2 separate regions of the Homo sapiens genome follow, and region 2 is linked to region 1. The links come from fine-mapping of genetic effects on gene expression. A gene starts in region 1. The other region holds a variant in brackets. All regions are shown on one strand. Distances are between the middles of the regions.

What was found. PIP is the estimated chance that this variant, and not a neighbour inherited with it, causes the effect.
Region 2: its variant is fine-mapped to the expression of NAT1 in transverse colon (GTEx, PIP 0.96).

Annotation. Positions count from the first base shown.
Region 1 is chr8:18,208,553-18,211,479 of GRCh38, forward strand. It overlaps NAT1 (N-acetyltransferase 1), which reads left to right and starts at 1,557. Exons shown (of 3, transcript NM_000662.8): 1 at 1,557-1,628.
Region 2 is chr8:18,322,139-18,325,065 of GRCh38, forward strand. No RefSeq gene overlaps it. Among named protein-coding and RNA genes, the nearest start is that of NAT2, 68 kb to the right of the region's middle. The variant A/G (reference allele first, on the strand shown) is at 1,422.

The DNA of each region.
Region 1 (2,927 bases):
AACAAGGTGGCCAAATAGAACCTTCCAGTACTCATTCCCCTGCAGGGACATCAAGTTCAACAAATATCCTCACGAGCCCAGGCGGCACAGTGTGAAGACAGAGTCTACCTCCTTAGGAAGTAAAAGGAATGTTAGTGTGGGATTTTGCATTGGAGGCTAGTGCTGACCCCACTGCAGTGGAACACAGCACTGGGCAGAGCCTCCAAGGCCCTTGATTCTAGGCTGGAGGCCACAGAGGGAGCATTTAGACCCCCGCCCCGGGTCAGAGGGAAATCTGCTACCTCAGCAGGAGGAATCCAAGTTCCAGTCCACTTCACAACCACCTAACTAAAGTGGCCTTCCGCCAGACCCTAAAACAAAGATTTGCATTCAGGTAGATTATTTGGAAGATGATTTAAGGACGTACCAGTGCAGGAGTTGTCGCGGGACAGTGAGACCAGGGCAGTTTGACAATCAATAAAGGGTGCATCATTGGCAAGCTACCTGTGAACAAAGGGAGCATAATTCCACTGGACAACACCAGGAGGCAGTGTTATACAAGCCTAAGGGTAATTCCACCTGACCAGGTACAGCACAAAGATATGTGGCCTCCAACTCCCAACATCCTGGGCTGAATAGTGGTCCCAGACCCATAGTTTTCAAGTCTATCTAGCCTGCCTGAGGACATGCCAAGAGAAAGCCTTCGCATAGAGTCCCGAGTTCACGTGGCAGGACGCCAGAGGCATGTTCTAGAACAGTAGGTGCCGAAGGCACAGCACAAGGAAACACTCACTGGTGGAATGTTCTCAAAACAAAGAAATGATAAATGTTTGAAGTGATAGATGTGCTAATTATCATGATTTGATCATTACACAATGTATGTATGTATAAGAACACCACATTGTACCCTGTAAACATGTATATTGGGTCAATAAAGAAACAAAAATTATGTTGTATAGAGAAAAATGCATAAGAAACAGCAAGAGTTGTAGATCAATACCATGAATGTAAATAAAAAACACCAGCATAAACAAAGCCATATGACATATATCACCCTCATACCACACACATGGGGCTCTTTCAGACACATTGCCCAGTGCCTTCAGGTAGAGAGGCCAGTGGGAATGAGGATGATGGATGAAGGGAAGAAAAATTTTTAAAAGAAGTCTAATGGGAACTGATGAAGAAAGTATACCATAAACTTGGAGTGTGATTAAAGCCTTCCATCTTCCTCTTTTGCCTCCTCTAGGTTACCAGTTCTGCTTTTCCTGGACCTGTTCCAAGCTCTCACGTTCCACATCACACATGGGACATCTAGTGTCAGGCTCCCAGAGAGCAGGAACCAGGTGAAATATAAGAGCACAGTCCTCCCAGCCGGTGGCATGGGGATAATCGGACAATACAACTCTCCACCCTTTTTTATGGTAAGATATGAATAAGGGGTCCACAGGAGCAACCTGAGTCCCTGCAACTACATTTCCCAGGGGCCCCTGGGGTAACCCTAATGTGACTCTGGGGGCGGGGCCAGTTGGACATCCAATGAGAGCACTTCCCCTGCAGACTTTGGAAGTGAGAGCACTTCCTCATAGACCTTGGATGTGGGAGGATTGCATTCAGTCTAGTTCCTGGTTGCCGGCTGAAATAACCTGGTAAGTGGAACTCTGTAAGGGGCTTTGAAATTGGGGTTTAATCCTATCTCAACTGTGAGTACAGGAGAGTAGGTTCTACACGATGTCTACATTTCAAGTATAAGGTTGCTCAGAAAGTGTGGCTGGCACATACTTGGAAGCTAATGCTGTCACTACTCCACAGCTTAGTGGTGACAGTTACAGGTCCTTGATTCAAACTGTTGGGTTTACAGTCACAGCCACTTTATAGCTGTGAGAACTTGGCCTAGTCACTTAGTTTCCCTAAAACTCAGTTTCTTTTTCAGTAAAATGGAGCTACGAGTACTGCTTACTTAAAGGACTTGTTGTGAGGATTACATACGTGTATTAAAAGATAACTAATGTGTTTAAGGCAACTTTCTCAACAGGATTTCCCTCTTGGTTACTTGTAACAGTGACGCTCACCCTCCTCTGTCCCCAGTGGTGTGTGTCCCAAAGGACCCAGTTAATCCTACAGGCAGCAAGCTCGTAATAATTCCTGCTCCTCTTGCACTAGCTGATAAAAAGCCCCTAATGATCCTGGATGTCCAGGAAGATTGAATTCTGTTGTTTGCAATGCCTATGGGAATTCCAGAGGGAAGTTTTTGTTTTTTTGAGGCAGAGCCTTGCCCCATTGCCCAGGCTGGAGTGCAGTGGCGTGATCTCAGCTTAGTGCATCCTCCTCCTCCTGAGTTCAAGTGATTCTCCTGCCTCAGCCTCCTGAGTAGCTGTGATTACAGGCACCCGCCACCATGCCTGGCTAATTTTTCTATTTTTAGTAGAGATGGGGTTAATTTTTGTATTTTTAGTAGCGATGGGGTTTCACCGTCTTGGCTAGGCTCATCTCGAACTCCTGACCTCAAGTGATCCACCTGCCTCGGCCTCCCAAAGTGCTGGGATTACAGGCGTGAGCCACCACACTAGGGACGAAGTTTTATTATGGCCGAAGGACACTTACTGGAGAGGGTCTCCAGGAGGTATGAATGACAAAAAAATTTAACTCCTTCACCGTCAGACCGAGAGCATCACCCCCTGAACATGGACTTGCAGAATTCCACAGAAGAGAGGAGACTGGCCTAGACAGACAGCCCCAGGAGCTGAGGGCCCAACAGGCTTTCTACCCTGGATGCTGCTCCCATGCCCTGACATGAGGCCCACTACAATGGTATACTTGTTTGCTCTTTCCTAATTAAGAAACAAACAAACAAAAAATCAGACATACTGTTTGCTCTTGAATGCTTGAAACACAAAACAGGTGACACCACCTTCCTCCTCAAAAGGAACTTTTTAACTGTCAACTTT
Region 2 (2,927 bases), 110 kb after region 1:
ACTCACTCGCCATCATGAGAACAGCATGGGGAAACTGCCCCCATAATCCAATCACCTGCCACCAGTTCCCTCCCTTGACACCTGGGGATTACAATTTCACCAGATTTGGGTGGGGACACAGAGCCAAACCATATCACCAACTATAGTCACCAAGATGTACAATGGATCTCTTGAATTTATTCCTCCTATCTATATGAAATTTTGGATCCTTTGACCAGCATCTTCTCAACTCCCAACCACCATTGCCCAATTCTCTGGCAACCACCATTCTACTCCCTACTTCCACCAGATCAAAATTTTTAGATTCTACAAGTGAGTGAGATGAAGCAGTATTTGTCTTTCTGTATATGGATGATTTCACATAATATAATGTCCTCCAGGTTCATCCATGTTGTTGCAAGTCACAAAATTACTTTCCTTTTTATTGCAGAATAGTGTACCATTGCATATATATACCACATTTTCTTTATCCATTCATCTGTTAATGGATACTTGTCATTTCTTATCGTGGCTATTGTGAATAATGCTGCAATAAATACGAGTGCAGTGCAAATGTATCTTCAACATACAGATTTCATTTCCTTTGAATATATATGCAGTAGTAGGAACGCTAGATCATATGTTAATTCTAGTTTTAATTTTTTTGAAGAACTTTCATGCTTTTTTCCACGAAGGGTATAATAATTTAAACTCCCACCAACAGTGTGCAAGGGTTACCTTTTCTCCACATCCTCACCAATACTTGTTATTTTTTGTCCTAGTTTTTTTCTTTTTTCTTTTTCTTTTTTTCTTTTTTTTGATATGGTGTCACTCTGTTGCCCAGGCTGGAGTGCAGTGGCATGATCATAGCTTACTGAAGCCTCAAATGCCTGGGCACAAGCAATCCTCCTGCCTCAGCTTCCTTTGTCTTTTTGATAACAGCCATTCTAACAGGTGCAATTTGCTATCTCATTGTGTTTTTGATTGTATTTCTCTAATGATTAGTGATGTTGAACATATTTTCATATACCTGTTGGCCTTTTGTATGTTTTAAGAAATATTTATTCAGGTCCTGTGCCCATCTTTAACTGGGTTGTTTTCTTTCTATTGAGTTGTTTAAGTTCCTTGTGTATTTTGAATATTAACCCCTTATCAGATGTGGATTTTGCAAAGATATTCTCCCAAGCCCCAAGAAGGAGAGTGTTGTAATTACTGGGAAAACATTAAGGAGGCTCTTGTTCACTATCTTGTTCTTTGTCTACTGATTATGATTTGAGAGAAGAGTTCCTTAGGCTGACTGTCAGCAAGAGCTATGTATCACCGATTTCATGGCAGTATATATTTTATGGACTCTAGGAATTCATGCCCTGGATTTTAACATTTGCTGCCAGCAGACTCAGAGCTGAATGTGTGCTACACTTCTCCCAAACATACTGGAGTGC[A/G]TTATGCATTGTATACTAACGTGACACCTGACTTTCTCTTACCTTCCCTAGTCTCATTTTTCCTATCATCCTCCTTTCTCTTCCACTTGTTTTTTATTTTATTTTGTGTGTATTTATATAAGCCAAATTAAAACATTTCTGGAAGAAAATCACTTTATAAGTAAGTAAATAACTACAATATGATATGATCCCAGTTTTGTAATGGCATCGACAAAAAGGATAATTCATATATATATATATATATATATTCATCAAATGTTGACAGTGTCTGTCCTGAATGGTGAGATCATAGGTAATTTTTATATTCTTCTTACATTTTTCTACATTTTCCATAATGAGAAAGATATTACTTTTATAATTTTAACAGTGAGCTTACAACTAGTTTAGTAAGAAATTTAGACAGTTCTTTATGATGATATCTAAATAGGATTAACAAAGGCATTCTGTGTTCTGAGAAGACAAATCTTTAAAAAACTGAAACTACAATAATCGCATCTTAGGAAAACTGGAAGCAACCACACATTAGAAGAAAAATTACAGTACGTGGAACCCTTCATGGGTATGTAATAATTTAAAAAGTGATTTATTTTTATTGGTGTAAATTTAAGGGGTACAGATGCAGTTTCGTTATATGGATATATTGCTACATAGTGCTGAAGTCTGGGCTTTTAGTGTTACCATCATCTGAATAATGTACATTGGATATATTAGGTAATTTCTCATTCCTTATCCCCTTTCCGTCTCTCCTTCTGAATCTCTAATGTCTATTATTCCACACTCTATGTCTACATATACCTATTATTGATTATAGCTTTCTTTTATTTATTATGGAAACTAAATAAAAGTGATTTAAAAAAATATTTGGCTGGGCACGGTGGCTCATGCCTGTAATTCCAGCACTTTGGGAGGCCAAGGCAGGTGGATCACCTGAAGTCAGGAGTTCGAAACCCGCCTGGCCAACAAGACAAAACCCCATTTCTACTAAAAATACAAAAATTAGCCTGGAGCAGTGCTGGGCGCCTGTAATCCCAGCTACTCGGGAGGCTGAGGCAGGAGAATAGCTTGAACTCAGGAGGCAGAGGTTGCCATTGAACTCCAGCATGGGCAACAGAGCGAGACTCCGTCTCAAAAAAAAAAAAAAAACTTTGTGAAATACTATACTTTGGGTCCTGATTCAGGAGGACTTCCACTGCCAAATGCTGTAATCTATCCCAGGTTGTTATGGCATTAATTGTGGTAATCATAACAAATTCTATAAATTTTGTACGCACAATGTGATATACAGATATACTGTGTTGCCTATGTGCTACAAAGAACATTTTTATTTCATTCTTTTTTCTTTCCTTGTTTCCTTACTGTCTGGACAGTTTCTCATACAGACACTTTGAAAATAGAGATACAAGACCAATGTCTTAGCTTAGATCAGTGCACAGAGCTGTCACTCTAATCTGCAACTAGACTCCTCCCAAGGGAGATGGAGAAAAGCTCAGTAAGAGCTAAAATGTC